4 linked regions of the Homo sapiens genome follow. The protein of the gene in region 4 interacts with the protein of the main gene of each other region in a biochemical or structural test. Each region holds a gene or a part of one and is shown on either strand. Other genes may lie near its edges.

What was found.
Region 1: the proteins of ERBIN (region 4) and RCN2 interact in a test that uses a peptide from one of them, tested with the Homo sapiens proteins (one large-scale study listed by IntAct).
Region 2: the proteins of ERBIN (region 4) and CBY2 interact in a test that uses a peptide from one of them, tested with the Homo sapiens proteins (one large-scale study listed by IntAct).
Region 3: the proteins of ERBIN (region 4) and TRMT13 interact in a test that uses a peptide from one of them, tested with the Homo sapiens proteins (one large-scale study listed by IntAct).

Annotation. Positions count from the first base shown.
Region 1 is NC_000015.10:76,944,792-76,949,800, reverse strand, and holds part of RCN2 (reticulocalbin-2 isoform a precursor), read right to left. Parts: intron 2,381-5,009; coding exon 2,284-2,380; intron 1,392-2,283; coding exon 1,249-1,391; intron 732-1,248; coding exon 579-731; 3' UTR 1-578.
Region 2 is NC_000013.11:45,700,585-45,706,171, reverse strand, and holds the start of CBY2 (protein chibby homolog 2), read right to left. Parts: upstream 3,853-5,587; 5' UTR 3,782-3,852; coding exon 3,707-3,781; exon of another isoform or gene 3,657-3,706; intron 3,398-3,656; coding exon 3,317-3,397; intron 2,662-3,316; coding exon of another isoform or gene 2,581-2,661; intron 1-2,580.
Region 3 is NC_000001.11:100,142,706-100,147,714, reverse strand, and holds part of TRMT13 (tRNA:m(4)X modification enzyme TRM13 homolog), read right to left. Parts: intron 4,579-5,009; coding exon 4,506-4,578; exon of another isoform or gene 4,501-4,505; intron 3,647-4,500; coding exon 3,572-3,646; intron 1,189-3,571; coding exon of another isoform or gene 1,043-1,188; exon of another isoform or gene 1-1,042. UniProt on the Homo sapiens protein: tRNA methylase which 2'-O-methylates cytidine(4) in tRNA(Pro) and tRNA(Gly)(GCC), and adenosine(4) in tRNA(His).
Region 4 is NC_000005.10:66,019,648-66,024,656, forward strand, and holds part of ERBIN (erbin), read left to right. Parts: intron 1-1,674; coding exon 1,675-1,738; intron 1,739-3,642; coding exon 3,643-3,717; intron 3,718-4,658; coding exon 4,659-4,803; intron 4,804-5,009. UniProt on the Homo sapiens protein: Acts as an adapter for the receptor ERBB2, in epithelia. By binding the unphosphorylated 'Tyr-1248' of receptor ERBB2, it may contribute to stabilize this unphosphorylated state.

The DNA of each region.
Region 1 (5,009 bases), on a different chromosome or scaffold from region 4:
ATCTATACATATGCAAAAATATAAAGTTCTATTTCATACAATAAAACCCTTTATAGAAACCATTTTAAAATTAAGCAGAACTTCTCAACATTAATATGTGAGGTCTAAGTCCTTCTAAAGGTTTCTTTAAAGGTTTTTAAACAAAATGCTAAACCTAAAAACATTGTCCTGTCAGTTCCCAAATTAAATCTACTTAGAACAAAAACAAAAATTTATAGCTCGGTCACATACTACTTAAATAATATTGTTCAGGCATCTCTAAAATCCTCCATGTTTTCAAGTATGGAAATAGAACTCAAATATTCCACAATACAGTACTAAACAGATGGAGTATTTAGGAAAGACTTTGTTGTCATATGGCACAATATTAATATTTTGTTGCTTCAATACATTTTGAAATAAATATCAGATTTTTGTTTTTTTTTCCTAAAAGACCAAAATTATAATCTACATTAAGATAATTCTGACTGTGGTTAAGACTTAAGAGTGTAAAATACAACATCAATATTTTATCACAAAAGTAAAGCTGGTAACAAATTATAAAAGGAGCCAGTACTCTACTGAGACAGGCTCAGAGATTAAAGCTCATCATGATAGAAATAGTCATCATGGAGCTGTCTGCCATAATCTGTGGCTTCACTGGTGAGAAACAAGTCCGGGTTTTCCAGAATCTCTTCTTCAGAGAGCTTTTTGTCACCATTCAAATCCATTTCATCAATTAGATGAAGCGCCTTCAAAATAAAACAAAAAAGTGTCAAGTGTAATAAGTATTTTCAGCAAGATGTTCACAATTTAATGTGATTTGACTTGTCAAAATCATCCAGGTGTACAAGTACTCATTATTGTTTAAGTATCTAAAAATGTTACACGTTGTAACCAGGTCCGTCTACTGCTTTTCCCATTATCTCCTTTCTTCATTTCTGCTGGGTTCTGTCTCTCTCCACTCAAATCCAATCCAGGATATATCAAGGCAATGAAAAATTATTATAACCTGTTTTGAGTCCCTGTAGGTAAATACAAACTATTATTCTATTCACTGTACTCTCAAATTAATACATGACACAATCTTAACTTCCTCGTCTCCCTGACAATCTAAACAGTTCGTAAATTCAAAACATAGTAATGCATCAATCCCAAATAACTCCATTACTTCTTTCTTTGGCTTAAGATTTTGAACTTCTTTTCCTATCAACAGCACCAAATTCGGGGGGAGGGGGTGGAGAGAAACAGTTGTTCTGTAACACTTACCTCCTCTTGTGCAATGCCCTGATTATTAGGTACTACCCAAGGTAACAGCTCTTGGGGATCAAGCCTGCCATCGTTATCTTTGTCATAATCATTCACGAATCTGTCTTTCTCAACAAGTATCCATTCTGGATCTTCATTTGCAGCTTAATATAAAAAAACACAAATATACATACACAAGAATATCACATGTATCCAATAAGAAGTTTGGTATATCCCTAGAATAAAGGAAGTGAATTTAAAGTTTACTAAAGAAAGCCCAATAAAACAGAACTACTTAACTGAAAAGTCCTGACATAAGAACAAATATATAGTCATTTTCAAAAGTGACACGAGTCTAAACAACCCAGTTTTAAAATCATTGGATGTTTTCACAAACTAGTAATTTTGTTAACTGCTATTTGTTCCGATATCTAGTTTTCCCAGATGTGAGGTGGGTAATGTTTTACTGTATATCATGTTTCTATACAAAGTTTCTTACATGTTTTCACAAAGTAATGCCATGTGTAATTTTAAAGTGACAATCAGAATAAGTAAAACTGGTGACCAATTTAAAAATGGCATTGTTTGGTGTCTTTAAGCAACAATTCTGAAAAAACAGCTGCTTATATAAAAGCAAACTCTTAATTTCAAACACTTATTCACCTTCTACTAAGCTTCTGATACTGTGTTTACACCAGTATTTGTAGTGTTTTATGTTTCTATCTCTTTTAAGATCCACCTGCAACAGCACAGGATTTTGTTTAAAAATATCTACCTTACTTCCTTCCCCATTTAAACTGATAATAAAATTAGATTTGTTTGAAAAGAAAGAAAAATGTTTGACTCTAGACACGGAAGTAAAAGTAAGCAAGACAGCGTTCTCAGATAAGCTATAAATCCATTTGTTGAACTTGTATTACAGTTAACGAAACAAGTAGGATCAGACACAGATCCTCATTACATTTCCTGTTGAAGAGAGCTTTCAATGAGCAAGGCTGTCTTTCAATGTCTTTCTTCAATTCCTTTTCTCTTTTCACATTCTCCCAGGTGACTTACTTGGATCCCACCTGTAATCACCAAGAAATTCTTCCAAACTAACAAATCCATCACCATTTTTGTCATGTTCTTCTAAAGCTTCTTGAATGACAAATTCCTATTCCACGTTCATTAAAAAAGAAAAAAAAAAGTTACAAAATGTTCAGTCCCACTGCCATCCGATTCAATTCTACTACAGAACTTCTTTAGAAATAAATGATAATTTTTGGAGCTCTAGTGGTGCAATCAGCTAGTAAGGTACTTATACAGGAAAAATCACTTTGGTTGTCCATATCTTCAAGACAATCCTTCTAAACACTGGAATTTAGAAGCAAGAATAAAACCTGAAGTACTATGTAGCTTTAAATTCAACATCCTTAAGCTTCTGATATTGTGAAGAACTCCACTTTCACTCTCATAAACAACCTCAGCGTTACTCTCATGCTATTTTCCGCACATCTCTCCCTCTCAAGAAAAGCATCTTATACTACCTTTGTCTTTAACTTCATTTGCCCTCCAATCCATGAACAACCCTAAAAGAGCCCTTACCTTAGAACTGCTGTTCTGCCTCCAGATCTAAAATGTACCAGCCCGCCATTATACCTCAATCTCCTTGCTTCCCCTTCAGCAAACCTAGCCCTATCCATCCCAAACTGCCCCCAAATCTGTTCCTCCCTCTTATCAAAGCTTCTTATCAAACAACCAATCCTTTTCCCTAAAGATGACCTGTTCAATGGCCAGCTGTTTCAGTACTTTCCTCAATATCTTCCTATCTCCTTTTTTTTTTCAGATGGGGTCTTGCTCTGTAGCCCAGGCTAGAGTACAATGGTATGATCTCAGCACACTACAACCTCTGCTTCCCGGGTTCAAGCAAATCTCCTGCCTCAGCCTCCAAAGCAGCTGGGACTACAGGCGTATGCCACCACACCCAGCTAACTTTTATATTTTTAGTAGAGACAGTGTTTTGCCATGTTGGCAAGGCTGATCTCAAACTCCTAACCTCGGATGATCTGCCAGCCTCAGCCTCCCAAAGTGCTGGGATTACAGGCGTAAGCCACTCCGCCTAGCCCTCCCCCTTCTTTTTTTTTTTAACATAGGATCTCATTCTGTCACCCAGGCTAGAGAGCAGTGGCACAATAATAGTGGCATCATAGGCTCCAACTACTGGACTCAAGTGATCCTCTCACCTCAGTCTCCCAAGTAGCTAGGACCACAGGTGCATGCCACCACACCTGGCTAACTTTTTTGTAGAGACAAGGTCTGCTATGTTGTCCAGGCTGGTCTTGAACTCCTAGCCTCAAGCTGTCCTCCTGCCTTGGCCTCCCAAAGTGCTGGGATTACAGGTGTGAGCCACCATGCCTGGCCCATCTCTGACTCTTGCCTTCCCTTAACACTTATTTAGTAAGTCAACATTCCTGCATATGCTTTCTTCAAAATGTTGCTCAAATCTATTTCATTCAATTGCCAGATAGAACTCTGGGCCGTATCACATTATGCCTAAATTATTTCATTGCTTTTACTGGTAATTCCCCTCTTTAGTCTTCAATTGTTCCTTATTCTCCAGAGAATCAAGATCTAGCATCCTTTGCCTGTCATTCTTGGGCTCAATTAGCTTTTCCCAACTTAATTTTGGTACTTAAATTACACCCAGCACTGTTCTTAAACTGGGTCATGTATTCTGTGCCAATGAGAAATTAGAAGCTTCACAATGGCAAGAGAAGTGGTATTAATGACAGTGTCTTACCACTGAGCTATGGAGAAAAATGTATCTGCAGCCTTGTTATGCAAGGCAGCAGGGTCTACCATGACACATTAAACAAAAAGATATATCTTCCTTCTTTGAAATATCCAGGGAACCAAGCCACGTAGCTGGAGGCTGATGTCATGCAACAGACTTCAATATAAATGTTTAGTCTCTTTTTTAAAAAGCTATTTGTTACATTAGTCTTTATTTCCCAGTGTGATGGTTTATGCTTTCAAGCTTGGCCAAGTCATAATAGGGACTCAATTTATGTTTGTTGAGTTAAACTTACAATTCAACAAAAGTTTTGAAAAACTGGTACTTATTTTAAATATTAAAGGGATGAGAGGACTCATTATACTTAAAATTGCAAAAACATTACTAGTTAACTAGCAGCTGCACCCCTACCAACCCTATGAAGAATCCAAACATGATGTTTTTCCAGACCAAAAGCTTTCATAAGTGATGTTGTAAATTAAACAGAAATCCTAATATTACTAACATTGAAAAACCAAAAAAAATCTGAAAGCTACAAAAGGATAAGGAAGGCACTGAAGGTAACACAGTTATGAGAGAAAATAGCCTGAGGAAGCCTGCTGTTCATACATAGTACAGAGATTTAAAAATTCAGTCTTTCACCTTCTCCCTCCCAATAAGCAACTTCGTCACCACAAGAAAGCCTCCTTACCAAGCCTAATTTTAAGTGGGGAGAATGAGCATCATTTTAAATCTGTGTATCTCTTAAAATTCTGGTTATACAATTCATTTTAACAACTTAATGAACAGGTTTTAAAGTTTTGGTTACTTGGAAATGTAAATTCATACAACCACTATGGAGAACAGTTTGGAGGTTCCTCAAAAAACTAAAAATAGAGCTACCATATGATCCAGCAATCCCACTGCTGGGTATATACCCAAAAGAAAGGAAACCACTATGTCAAAGAAATATCTGCACTCCCATGTTTGTTGTAGCACTGTTCACAAAAGCCAAGATTTGGAAGCAACC
Region 2 (5,587 bases), on a different chromosome or scaffold from region 4:
AAAATGCAAAGGCCAAAGGGCAAAAGGAAAAGGGGAAGTGAAAGGACCAAAATCTCTTACTAGTGCTACAGGACTTGTAGCAACAGGTCTCTCTGGGTGGGACCTTCTGGGATAGAATTACTGGGGGTGTGGTTTCCCATCCAAAGAGTTTGGGGATGGGATTGAACAGCAACTAGCCAGGCTTAGCTGACACACACTGATGTCTCTCCACCCCTGGAAAAATGTGGCTACCACAGCCCAGAAGAGATGTCCAAACACTGCTGATAGAGTCCAAGCCTGCTGACCAAGTTTCTTAAACACCAACTTTGCCAACATTACTGAGGGTTACTATCAGAGAACATTCAGCCATCTGAGGTACTATTAAAGCATGTGAAGTTGAGAGGACCCAGGATTCTGGAAGGAAAAGCCAAATATGATACTGATTTTCATATGAGATGACAAGGCTGAGTCTCATTATCATTATTTTAAATTAATTCAGCTCCCTGGTACCATGGCAAAGTCAATGGTGGTTTTAATAAATACTAACAGGTAAAAGGATAATTCACAAGGTAAATGTGATTGATGTTGACAGAATTACAACGTTAACAGCAAAGAGGATAAAGAAGATGTCATATGTAGTATGTTTGCATACTGTTTAACAGAGACTCTCCTGAAATCTTCCTGGGAATTCAAATTGGCGGGTGCTGTCAGCAGGAATTCACTGCTTCTGAGTAACAAGCACAAACAAAGGGGAAGGAGAAAAGGCAACTGGGAAGGATGAAGGAGGCACCGGAGGGTGCTATTGGAGCTCAGTCTGACCTGGTGTAGCTCTTTCATTAATGATCTAGGAGTAAACAATGCCTTAATGAAATTCACAGAGCACGTTCATTGGGGAAACGCGAAAGTCTGTGAGAACTGAATCATTACATACAAAAGGAACCAGGAGATCAGCTAGCTTGGGCTGGAAATGACACTGATGGCTTGCAAGTTAATGTGCTGGAGGGAAAGAGATCAGAAAACACAAATATTTAATGTGAGGAAGAAAAACAGGAAATCAATGAGTCCTGAAAAGACCTTAGGGTGATAACATGTAGTGATCACAGGCATTTCCAATGTAATTGAGAAGCCCAAACGCACAGCAGGACTGGCAGCTGGGAGCCAGAGGCAGTCTCTGGAGACAGAGCTGCTGCCACAAGTCCTTTCTGAAACAAATGGAAAGTGGACTCCATCCCAGAATAGAGCAGCTTTTGGCAAATACAAAATAAGAAGCCCAGAGATGAGTGGTTAAGATGCAGGGAGAAGACTCCATCTCCAAAAAGCAAGAGAAGAACCATGGAGCTAAGATGCAGCATGGCCCAGCTTACTGGCATGTGCCCTAGTATAGCGGAGAACATGGGCACTGATTTGAGTTCAAGCCCCTTCCTCGAGCTCTGCCATTACTAGTGGGGTTCCTGGGGTTGCCGGTTCCTGTACCTGTAAAATCTCTACCTCACACTTGCTTGGCCCCATGCCCGACACATGATCGCACCAACATTCAGTCAATATTTCTTCCTCTCCTTGCTTCCCAGATCAACCCTGTCCCCTAAGCCATGTGCCATCTCATTTAGGGAGGTAGAGTGAGCACACTGGTCCCTCTCGCAGGCCTGGTGGTATTTTGGTTCGGATCATCTAGTTGTAGACACCCACACCCATCCCCCAGAGTGCCAGTCTTGAGCATCCTGACAGGTGTCCAAAACCTGGTGCATGGCTTGTGCCCTCTTGGCAGGTGTACGCACGAAGCTGCATCTGCCCTTGTGAGGTACACGTGCCCAGACAGGAGATATCCTCTCATTCTTCACCCACTCTGCCCCACAAGACCCCAGCAGCAGCACCAGGTCCTCCAGCACAGGAAGCAGGCAGCCCCAAGACAAGCTTGAGCTGTCTTAAACCACCTTCTCTTCTCCTTGATCGTTGGGCTGTTTCTGGGAGCTGGGGAGGGAAAGTTGCGGTGGGTGTTGATGGAAACATCATTCCAATTTCTCTATCACATGACCACTACTCTTTCAAATCCTACCCCCTCCTTCACACCCACCCCTAGGTTGGCATCCTCTGCCTGACCAAGTTTCTTAAACACCAACTTTGCTAACATTACCGAGGGTTACTATCAGAGAACATTCAGCCATCTGAGGTACTTTCAAAGCATGTAAAGTTGAGGGGCCCCAGGATTCTGGAAGAAAAGATTGGTTTATATGGGCTATGAGGAATCACAGCAGTAACACCCACTCTTGGGGGAGTAGTGGCTAACACAACTCCCTGCGTATTTCAGGTGGAAAGAATCAGGCCCAAAAAGATTCCTACAGCTTGTTATCTTGTTGAATGATCAGGGGGAAGTTATCTTATATTCTGGCTAAGATTCATGGGCTAAAAGTAACAGAAAAGTGACTGTTCATTACAAAGTTATAAAGATAATGTGAAAATAAACATCCAGGATGTTTTCTTCTTCCATATTTTTGCCTCCCGCTGAACATACTTGCCTAGATTGTTACAATTATATATATGGAATGCCCACCAGTGGTCAATCCTCCTCCTACACATCCCTGGACAGAGCTCTCAGATAGTTACCTCTGCATTGGATTCCTCCATCCTACATTTCAACCCCTCTGGTTGCATGGCCCTGGTCTTCCAATGAGGACTTAGGTGACTCTGGAGAAAGCAAAGCCACCCCTTTGTGACATAGCAGCAGTAGAAACAATTCAATCAAGAGGACTCCACTAAGGAAACAGCTGATTGCAGGCAGGAGGAGACCTGAGACTCTATAGCCTGTGAGGACTTCACCAATTCATTGACTGAAAAAGCATCTATGCCCATGGCCCCTACATCTGTCTTTGATGCATAGCAGGGCTTAATTCTCTTGACAGCTCCAAATAACTCTGTACCCCTTTGTCCACGGATGAGGTTTTCTTCTCATGGATTCATTCTTATGCATTTGATTTCAAGTCCCAGTTCTAATTCTCCCCCAGAAATCCAGAGTGATTGCACAACACTAAGCACCAAAAGATCTCGTTTTGAGAAGGCTGGGTTACTTCAGTGTATCATAGAAACTTGGAATGTTAGGACTGGAAGTTCTTACCAGATCATCTGACCCAGCCACCTCATTCATGGGAAAAAGAACCCAAGGCCCAGAGGGGCTATGTGGCCTTCCCCAGCACACCGCCTGCTGGCACCCAACCCAAACTATAATCTGAAGCCCTGACTATCTCTGCTTATTCTACAACATCTTGCTAGAGTTTTGAAGGAGGAGATGGGGGGTTATTCTGGCTAACACTGATAGGTTACATCCTTCTGTGATTATCCCTACCTGAGGTAGAACCACACTGATTGGAATTTCTAGGCTTTCAGATCTGGTATCTCTTTTTCTTGTATAATTTGGCCTTGAGTGCTGTGGAAACGAGAAAAGAAGAAGATTACTGCTTCCCAGCTCATCCTCTGGGCCTCAATTGCTCGCCTAAAAAACACAGAACTTTCTACTCATTTATTTCTCTCTTGTCAATTATGTACAATTATGAAAGTCTGAGTCTGAAAGAACGTGTAGATGATATCTGGCATGATGGTTTATCAATCTCTGAACAGATATTAAGCTAGATATTATAGTTGATGTAAAAGGCTTTTGAAAGTTTTTGAAGTGGAGATAGCTGTACCTGCTTCCCTGTCTAAGATGATTATTTCTATCTCAAGTAAAAAGCCATACCAATGTGAGTTGCCAGGTATAGGTCCTATGCAGAAGTTGGTCACCAAAACACTCAGAACATTCCAGAGGTGACATCACAAAACAATATGGTGTTTTTCAGGGCTCATGGTTTCTCTCTGAGCATCACAGGTGGGAATGAGGCATCTGACAGGCAGGAAGAGCTTGTGGGTGCTGTGACTACTTGGCTGGTCAGGGTCAGTGTGACACACACAATAGCCCAAACATTAGCCCCCTGTTGGGTCATTCCAGCTGCCATTCGTATTCTCACTGCCAGGCTAAGTTGAGATCCCTATTCTCTCTCCAGAAGTGGCATCTTCTTGGAGTTGGGTCACTCAAGAAGAAAGAAACACAAACTGAACTCTTCCCATACCAAGGGAGAAAGTGTAGTCTGAGGTGTTTTCTGACACTACTCAATTCCTTAATTCTCTGACACCAACTGTGTGCCCTACAATTCAATTTCATCCTGATGCTATCTACCAGAGTTAGTGTTACAGAGCTGAAGCGGCTCACTACCCAATGCAATAGAAGCCAATACTAAAACACTAAGTTCTTTAAAAAAGAAAAACTTGTATATTGAAAGTCAACTCCCAAGGAGACAAGAGTCAAGCTCAAATCTGTCTCTCTGTGCTGACATTAAGGTAGTATTTTTATTAGAAAAGATTCAGGGGGTGGATTCTGAGATTAGTAGGTGATTGGTGGATGGAAATGGGAGGTCTGGAAAGTCCCAAAGAGTAAGAAACCAGTTACTTAATTTTTGAGTTTCAAGATAGCAGATAAGAAAAGAAACTTAAGCCGCTGAAACTCCCTCCACTTGTGAGATCAAGAAAAACCTGGCTGAAACTGGTTGGAACCAAGATGGCTAACTGGAGCTTGCACAGAATAAGCTTGCTGATGTCATAGCCTGAATTTCCACCACGTTTCATACTAACTCTCCCTGAATTTGCCATGCAACTCAGGAGTTAACATGAAGAAATAACTATGCATGCCCAAGGACTTTCCAGACCTCCCTTTTCCTTGCACAAATCACCTACTAATCTCAGAATCCACCCCCTGAACCTTTTCTAATAAAAGTACTGCCTTAATGCCAGCAGAAAGAGACAAATTTGAGCTTGACTCCTGTCTCCTTCAGAGGTGACTTTTAATATAAAGCTTTTCTTTTTTTCAAAAATTTGGTGTCAGTGTTGGCTTCTAGCACATTGGGCAGTGAGCCCCTTTTGCTTGTTAACAAACTAGAACCCCAGGTGAGACGAACAGCCTGTCCAAGGTACTGTTGCCCCTAGTGGTGTGCAGGCCCCCTGCACTGATCCTGAGTGGCCACCTAGACCAGGGTGTCCAGAGGCTCGACTATAGGGTTCCTTCTTCTCCACCATGGCACTTCAGGCTCCCTTGGCACTTCTCTTTTGGGAAAATAAATTGCTTCTGGATTAGACATCTTTCTGGTGAGTACCTTGTTAATATGCCCCTGTACTTTTAATTGTCTTTGAACTCATCATAACGACTGTGGGTTCAAGTCCCACCCTGTGGTTTAGGATTATGGATGAGAGTCCCAACCTTGTCTAGGATTGTGGATTTGAGTCCTACCCAAGGGGGATTCTGGTCAGTTCAGAGTCCCAAATCTGGTGTATGTTTAAGTCCCAAAGAATTAAGGCAATACTAAAAAGCTACAGCCACTAAGATAATCTAGTCTGGTTCTGATTTTTGTTGGTCTGTCTGTATTTTTGGTCTGTGTAGCAATATTTGGCTTAACAGAGGTCAAAGACTGTGATGGCTACAGCAGAAGCCTTATGAGATCTCCAGACTCCTGCACACTCAATTAGAACAAAGCAACTCCATAAACTAGAAAACCTGAAGAAAAATGGCACATGTAAAACATTTTCAGTC
Region 3 (5,009 bases), on a different chromosome or scaffold from region 4:
TATCTTCTCAATTTCTTTAATGATTTATTCTGCATAAAGCCTACTTCCCAATAAAGCTATCTGAAGCTTAAGATCTACAATTTGAAGAACTTTTACCCAACTACCTGAATTGTCTCTCACTTTTCCTACCTTAGCTGAGGAAATGACTTGTATGGGAAAACTTTATTCACCTACACTTACATTCTAGTTTAAGAAAGGAAAAATGAAGGAAGGAAGGAAGGGAGGGAGGAAGGGCAGACAAATCTGTTTAGGTTGATGCTAGGTCAAGATGCTTGTCTTGAAGAGGCTCATAGCAAATAGTGATGAACTGAAGAGTTGAAAAGAGGGCGTCAGAACAGAATCTGGAAAGCAGGCCTCACTGAGTAGCCTTACTGTATTTATTCATTTATTTAACAAACATTTACTGAATGCCTTTCATGTGCAAAGCACTGAGGATACAATTATTAATATACACAAACTTAAGAGGCAGATGTACTCCACATTACAATGAAAATATTTTAGTATATTTTAAAACTAAATAAATGGATTTTTGATGACTATGGCTATTTCCCATCGAAAACTCCTACACTGTTGACAATACTGGAAAGACCCAAAATGTAGGACCCATATCTTCTTAATCATTAGATTGTCATGTTGTGTCTGTTCAATCAAAAACATATACATATTTTAAAATTTTATTACCCTAAGATATCACAAATGACTATTAAATGATCTGATATTTCACTAGTAAATTTAATTCAATATATGAATTTAAGTCAACAAACATTAGAAACCCATTATTTGCAGAAAGTGATAGCTAATCTATTATTTCATAAACTATTATTTTCTGACAAAATACATTTAGTCATTGTTTTATTCATATTTGACTTAAGTAAGTGATTTTCAGAAATGTGAATAACCAGATAAATTATTAAAAGAATTAAGTTATTTCAGGCCAGGCGCAGTAGCTCACGCCGGCTGAGGTGGGCAGATCACGAGGTCAGGAGATGGAGACCTTCCTGGCTAACACGGTGAAATCCCGTCTCTACTAAAAATACAAAAATTAGCCGGGCGTGGTGGCACGAGTCTGTAGTCCCAGCAATTCGGGAGGCTGAGGCAGGAGAATCGCTTGAAGCCGGGAGGCGGAGGTTGCAGTGAGCCGAGATTGCGCCACTGCACTCCAGTCTGGGCGACAGAGCGAGACTCCGTCTCGAAGAAAAAAAAAAAAGAATTAAGTTATTTCAGAATTAGAAGGAGCTTTAGCAATTTATCTCAATTCATCTTTTATAAAGAACTTAAAAGACAAAGCCACATATGCAGAAAGGGACAAGGAAACACAGCAAATTGGTAGCCAAGATTATTCATTCATTCAAATATTCACTGTGTTCCTGTTATATAGCAAGCATCGTACTAAGTATATACCATATACTCAAAAAATTCAGAGCATGGTGGAAGAATTAGATATATAAACAGATAATTAAAATACCACAAGGTAAAAATATGCAGAGGGTATTATGATAACACCAAGGAGGCATATCTTATTTAAGGGAGCTCCCTGAGAGTGGTGACAACTGAGGTGAAGGATGAGTAAAAATTGACCAGTTGTTTTGTTTGGGTGAGTAGGTGAATGGGGGTGAAATTCCAGATATAGTAGAAATAGTACAGTCTATGGAAAAGCACACAGGGTTTGATGTTGCTGAACAGCAAAGTAGGAGACAGGGAATGTAAAGAGAGGAAGGCTGAAGCCAGATTGAGACTAAAACGTTATGTCAAAGAGTTTGGACTATATCAGGAAGTACCGAAGAGTTTAAAGGGAAAGACACATTAGTTGTGTAGCAGATGGGTCTGAGATTGATTGACCGATTGAGATAGGGTCTTGCTCTGTCACCCAGGCTGCAGTGCAGTGGTGCTATCCCAGTTGACTGCAGACTCAGACTCTTAGGCTCAAGTGATCCTCCCACCTCAGCCTCCTGAATAGCTGGGACTACATGCACAAGCTATCGTGCCCAACAAATTTCTGTAGAGATGGGGTCTTCCTATGTGCCCAAGCTAATCCTGAACTCCTAGCCTCAAGCAATCATCTCACCTCAGCCTCCAGTGTTGGGTTTCCAGGCATAAGCCACTGTGCCTGGCCTGAATATTAGTATTTTAAGGACAGAAGTGGAAGGAGACTGTGAAATAAACAGAAGAATGGCATAGATGTAGGGGAAGAACCAGGAAATAAGAGTATCGCAAAAGAGAAGAAAATGGAATTTCAAAAAGGGTAAGCAACTGCAGCAGAGACAAAAGGAGGATTCAGATACAGTGAATCAAGGGAAAAAATTATGTGGAACATGAGAAATGGCCACTGTAGGTCAAAAGAGTGTACTCCCTCCTACCCCCGGGATGGAACTGGTTTACTTTAGAAGACTTTTATGAGGCTTAAATGAGATAAGGTATGCAAAAGTACAGTCATGCATTGCTTAACTATTGGTGTATGTTTTGGGAAATGCATTAGGCGATTTCATCATTGTAGGAACATCAGAGTGTACTACACAAACCTAGATGGTGTAGTGTAGCCTACTACACACCTAGGGTGTATGGCACAGCCTATTGCTCCTAAGCTACAAACCTGTACAGCATGTTACTGAATACTGTAGGCAACTGTAACACAATGGTATTTGTGTATCTAAATACAAAAAAGGTACAGTAAAAATATGGTATAATTTTATAGGACCACTGTCATATATGAGTCCATTGTTGACCAAATCATCGTTATGTTGTACATGACTATAGTCTTAAAAACTATGAAGGCCAACACAAATATATAGTACTCAATGCCATTTCCAGCCAATATGAATAATATCTATGGATGCTCCAAGTAATCCATATGGGTAGATGATGAAACTAGCAAAAGTTAGGAAGATGATGTAACAATAATTAACATTTATTGAGCACTATTATGTGCCAGACACTTTACATGCAACCCGGTAAATTATTAATATATTAGTATCTCTGTTTTATAGATGAGGTAACCAAAGCTCAGAAAGGTTAAGTAATTTGACAAGGTTACACAACAAAGCTGAAGGCTAGACTATCTGATTCTAAAGCACATGCTGTTTCCACTTTACCATGCTAGATCTGATGGATCAAAGTGCTAAGACAAGACATCTTAGATTTTTTTTTTTTGTCTAACATTTATTTTTTTCTTTTTCCCCAGAATCCTGAAACACAATAGTCTTTTAGTAGAAGAGGTTTCTGAGTTCTTTCTAAGCAACTACTCTAAAAAATCAGTAGCTTCTAGGTGGAATCATACAGTTTCCATAAATGGTCTTATTTTCCTTTTCTGGTTGAAATTTAACCCAAAGAACTTTAAGGTCTAATGTGATGCAGTATTTACATACAAAACTCTTAATTCATCCTGCAAAATGGCCAATATGAGCAGATAAATAGGAAAGCTATGCATCTAATAAAGCACAGGGCCAGTGCTCTATAAAGATTATTGAGTTGTAAACATAAGATATCTATTCAAAAGAGACCACTGAAATGGTTGGGGCCAGGTTAGGCCAAAACTTAATGCATTAATGTAAACATTATCAGTATGTTTACGTACCTGTTGCCATACCACACAGATGCTTTCCAATTCCTACCACAGGTAGTTTTTCTTCTCTTAGCACAGGAATCTTGTCTGAAATGGAAATGAGAATTAACTGTCTAGTGAAATAAAGTACATATTAATGTGGCCTTCCAAAAGAAAGAACTAATTAGAGTCTCTGAATTTTAGCCTGAAAGAGACTCAAACAAAAATTATCACTTTATGGAACCCAACATATAACATAAGAACTTGTTTAGGGTTCATAACATCAGAAAGTTAATATATTCAGCTAAATAATTTTAAATACATTGATTTCTATACAAATGCTGGGTTGCTTTTCATGGCTGGATTAAAATTGGTGAATGGAAGAGGTTGCAAAGATATGTTTGCATTATTTTCTTTGGATAATCTGAAAAATAGAAAAGGTATAAAAAGGGCACTACAGAGGTTGATTGAGGAGTTTGTGTGTGTATGTGTCTGTGTGTGTTTTGTGTATGGAATATGAATCCCACAGTGATGACTTCTTTTGTACAATTTAAAATTCTAGGAAGTATCTTTTACACATTAGCTAGGCAGAGAAATATCTCATTTTCTTTCATGGTTTAGGTAAAGTCACGTTAACTGCAGGCAGAAGGCTAGTTTATAGTTTGAACAGACTCAAAATTAATTTAAACAGGACAAAGAAACAACAGAAGTACATATTATAAAACTTTTAAACTCTTCCCTAATATAACACTTCATTTCCACTTGATACTGAAAATTTTTAAAATTCTCAACCTTAATTCAATTTACATCTATTTAAAAACATTATATAAAACATTCTATATTAACAATGAATTGATTTGACTGTTTTCCCTGAAGCACAGTTCTGCATGATTGGATTTCTAAGCAACCTCAGAGTTTAAAACAGTTATGATTTATTTGTAGACCAATGGAAAGTTACACAACTTACTCAAACACAAGTGTTGAATATCAATTTGAAGTCTTTCAAACACTGAATTTTTCTTTCTGTGTTTTCCATCCACCTGCACAAACAGAACATTATTGTAATAATCACTTCTTACATTTAAAAAAGCTTTATGAAAATAAAAAGATTTTTATTGGTTTTCAAAATTCAGAGCAACAGAACATATTTAAAAATTAAGATTGTACATTCTTTGATGAGAACTTCAAAATATCACACTTTTTAAAAAAGATTTGAAAATGTTTATCAATTATTACATAGACATTATTTCCTTTAACCCTAAAAATTCCCAATTCACTGACAAAGGAACTGAAGTTCACAGATCTTAAGTGATTTATCTAAGATTGTCTACTAGCTCCTTTATCTTTGTCACTCCTGGTGTACTATTTTTGGTTCGCTCCTCTTCTTGCTCTCCTGAAAGATCACAACCATTCTAATCTATACCTATGTGCCCACGACCGGCTGATCTACATTTGTGGCTCAGGCCTCTCC
Region 4 (5,009 bases):
TTTCTTTTTTATTACATATCTGTATCACTCACGTTTTCCTAAAATTGTTTTAAAATATAAATTTTCCAGGATATCATCTGTAATTGAATTTTTCCAATGCACACCTTTTCATTTTTGTACCCTTTTCTAAAACTGTTATGCCATTGACATTATGTGCTCAATAGTTACATGTGAATTTTCTGTTATCTTGTCATTATAACAATACTGAAGCAAGAAATGTAAGATTATGTTTTGTTCTTTCAGTCTTCTCTTCCTCCTCACAATCTTCTTCACTTTTTGCAAATCTCCACCTGGTATAGTTATTTGAACATAGGAAATTATAATCATAGCATGTGATTTTATACATCTGGAGAAAGATCGTGGAAGCAACCTTTCGCTTGTTAATGAAGGAAGCTAGAACTTAAAGGTTTTCTGGGGAAAGATATGAGTAAGGAAGCAGAATTATGGTACCTGAGAATAGGCACTTAGTAAATCTAGGTGAAAGCAGTTTTATAAAAATTGGCATTATGAGATGAATTGAAGAGTTGATGACAGAATGGCATATTTAAAATGTAAAGGGAAAATTCGCTTCTAATGTAGACCAATGACAGTTTCATTACAATGATGGTGTTTGTTTTTATATTTTTGACTAAAAAGCTGGAGAAATGTTGCAACTGAGTTTTATTTTACTTATTACTAATTTTTGTTAAAATTCCAGAGAAGATAGAAATAGTCTGTGTTTTTCGTGCCGTAATTTGAAGTGCCTGTGGATTTTAAATGATACTCATTTTCAAAGTATTAACATATTAATGTAATATACTGATATTGTGATTATAACTATATTTTGCTCTCATTTTGTCATATCCTACAAAATCCTTAATACAGAATTTCTTATCTGGGTAACTGGTTACATCTCAATGTATTAAATAATAGGTGTTGTACAAAAATAGCCACTTAAGAGTGTAAATATTTGTTTGAATTAGTTTCAAAGGGTACCTTTGTAAAAGGAGAGAGAAAAGATAGAAGTGCAACATAGTTTATTTCATTACAAACTGGTTTGTACATCTTTCAAGTTCCTGTAATTTCAGAGAAGTGTTGATGTTAAGTTGGAAGTTAAGAATAGTATATTATTGCTTTTATTTAAAATAAATGTCAACTACTAATTTGTGATTCATATAAAACTTTATTTTGAATTGTATTGTATTTAATTTGAACATGTGGGGAGTAATACAACGTACTGTTAGCATTTTGAATATTAATTTTCGGAGTTACAGTTATCTTAAAGTCTTACAAATATATGAGCAGTTTTGAAAAAGAATTTTTGTAATTATGGTAGTAATTATTATACATCTGCCAACATTTATTAGCTGACTTGTACTATATGAAAATTCATTATGTGAAAAAATAGAAACTCATTATTTGTATTCTGGCTTGTGGGTTTAAATTTATTGCAATTGCTTCTTAAAAATAGAAATGAAAAGACCAATGAGAAGGCAAAATAAGATAATAACTGATAATTATTTTATCTAGAAATCTGACTTTTAAAATTTTTTAGAAAATTAATATTTTTATTTTGTCAACATGTGAAAGCCCATAAATAATTACCTATTCCATAAGAATGTTTTAGACTGTTTTGAAAGCTTCCATGTAATTGATATTTTTCTAGTTAATTTTTCATTACTCCATTATGAACAGAACTATGAATAGACTGACCCAGCTGGAAAGACTGGATTTGGGAAGTAACGAATTCACGGAAGTGGTAAGTTCTCATCAGTCTCACTTTCCCTAAGTTCTTATATTTAATGAAGAACAAAATATGAAAATTAATGTATTTCTCTTACAAATTGGATAAAGGTTTACTTTTTTTTCTTAGTTACAAGATATGAAATTTCTTAGCCAGAACTTTCCAGACAGATAGAAAAATTAACCAGACAGATGAACTTCTGACCACAAGTGAGCATAAAATGTAAAATCAATGAGAGGTCCATGGAAGAGATACTAAACAATTTTTAGCATAGGAAGCAGAAAATTTGAGTGATTATAAGTGGGAAACATCAGTCTGGAATGCAGCAGGTAAAAGTAGTTCTGAATCAGAGAGAGCTCCATGGGGTATTGCTTGTTAACTTATTCAGTAATAAGATACTTCTCTATAATGTTACTTAATAGCTAAGGGGAAAATCATTGAGTGAAACAACTGTTATTTTTGAAGTGGTAATGAGAACCTTTTTGTTTGTGCTTTGTATGCCAAGTGCGCTATGAAGCTGACTCTAAAAGGAAAGGAGTAGTGTTTAAGTAGCTTTTGTCTTTAGTGAGTTTTCCAAAAGAACTCAGAAAATAAGCTAGATTTTTTTTTTTTTGAAGAGGAACTCATCCAGCTGAGTATCATTATTAAACTTTTAAATTAGTTTACAAGTTTGTTGTTTAAAAGTGTGGTAGCTCTCAAATGATGGTTTTAAGCCTAGGAATTTCTCAAAACTGCTTGCTATAGTATTGCCCTGTGGGTATTATATTAATATTATAAATTTCAGCTGAGGTTTGAGGAGGAACATGGTACTTTGGAGTACCTCATTCTCTAAAATACATGCTGTGCTTCCCAAATTATTTATCTGTTACGTCCTTTCTCAATATTTGTTCTGTATGAATCCGTTTCCGTATTAACTATTTCAAAAATCTCGTTCATTTTAAGAATCCAACAAGCTTTCAAAATCGTCATTAGTTTTTGTACCATTTTGGTCTTCCAACATTATACACTTTTTAAAACTTACAGTAGAATTTAACAGTAATGCACAAAAGGAAATTTCTTTTAATCCAAGTTACATCTGGGATTCTTATCTATATTTATATGTTAACAGTAAATCTGATTGGCATGCCTTTTATATATGACTGTTAACTATGGTCATTAGATGTGATAGTACTCTGTGCCATCACATGATCATTGATTGCAGATGGCTTTGTGAGGTGATAGAAATAACTTTGAAGAGGGCAGACTTGAAGGGACAATGCCCAGGAGCAAATTTTGCCTGGATATGAAGGTCTGCCACAACACTTGGATTAATTTTGATGTCCTCAACACCATATTATAAAGAATTTTCTACCATGTAATTAGAAGTTTTTACTAGAGGTTTAAATTACAGTATATTTGTATCATGTAGTTATGACTTTGTCTATTTACCTTTCCCTGATTATGGACATTTAGGATGCACGTTGTCTTTTATCTCCTTCTTAATGAATGTCACCAGGGAACATTTGTAATTTTTCTGTTTTCTAAAAGCTGTATCTTCTTACTGATAATGCATGAGTGCATATTTTTATTGTATACTTCTAAGCAGTGAGTCCTATTTTTTATTTCTTTACAAATTATATAAAAACTTGCCCCTGTTGTGTAATCCAAAGCTTAAATGTGTTTTTTGTAATCTACTGCTATGGCATGTCTCTTTGATTTCTCCATTAATAATTTTCTATAATAATTTTACTGTAGTAACTATAATGCAGTAGAAAGGCTTACATCCTGGCTCTTCTTTTTTATTTTTCCTTCTCCCTGCTCCTTTTATTTAATGATTTGAAACTAAAGGTTATTAGAAATTCCCAGGGCTTCTTTTGCCAGATAAAGACATTCATAAAAATTAATTGAATTACTGCTATCCCCTACCCTAATCCCAACAGCCTGAAGTACTTGAGCAACTAAGTGGATTGAAAGAGTTTTGGATGGATGCTAATAGACTGACTTTTATTCCAGGGGTATGTATATGAGATTTTAAATGGCATCACTTATTTCTGGCTCTCCTTTGCAGTTTTGTGAATTGTACCTTTTATAATTACTTTTAATTAATAAAAAAATTGAATTATTCTTTATTAAACAGAAGCAAATTACTTTTTTTCATGAGCACATTCTTGATTATAATCTAAGAATTCTCATAATAAACATTTGTATGTCTCCTTTTAATACTGTTGAGTGTGTCCTTTCCAATGGTATCACTTGAACTTACGTCCCAATTTGCTTTGCCCAAGGAATTGGTAAACTAGGATATTTTTCATGAACTTTCTGAATTTTTTTTTTTTTTTTTTTTGAGACAGAGTCTCGCTCTGTTGCCCAGGCTGGAGTGCAGTGGTGCGATCTCGGCTCACTGCGAGCTCCGCCTCCTGGGTTCACACCATTCTCCTGCCTCAGCCTCCTGAGTAGCTGGGACTACAGGTGACCACCACCATGCCCAGCTAATTTTTTTTTATTTTTTAGTGGAGACGGGATTTCACCGTGTTAGCCAGGATGGTCTCGATCTCCTGACCTCATTATCCGCCTGCCTCGGCCTACCAAAGTGCTGGGATTACAGGCGTGAGCCACCGCGCCCAGCCGAACTTTCTGTTTTAACAACTGACAAATTGTTTACTCCCATAAAAAAAACCACAAGAATCCCCATATATGCTATTTCCTTAGGAGGTAATGGATACCTGAATTCCCAAAGAATATGTCCTTTGTCACTTCTGCTATGCTACAATTAGTAGAACATCTTAGCTATATTACTGAATACATTTCTAATGGCATTTAAAAAACTACCTGGGAGTCTTCTTTCTTGTATTAGCATTTAATTTTGAATTAAAACTTGGTATCAAGTTTATTCCCTAAACTTTTTACAAATTACTAATGTTAATAGAGTCATTAGATTTTCTTTTTTTACTTATAGTTTATTGGTAGTTTGAAACAGCTCACATATTTGGATGTTTCTAAAAATAATATTGAAATGGTTGAAGAAGGAATTTCAACATGTGAAAACCTTCAAGACCTCCTATTATCAAGCAATTCACTTCAGCAGCTTCCTGAGACTATTGGTTTGTATTGCTTTCAAATTCATGTAATTTTTATTAAAATAAATTCGAGACTTCCACATAATCTCAAATTTCACTTGTTATGAGGTAGTTATACTTCGTTACCACAGGAACGGATTTTATTTGAATTTTTCCTGGTGTGATCAGTTGTACAGTTTGCTCCTTTGTTGACATTACTGTTTTTTATTTACTCTAAGGTAATCTCATTT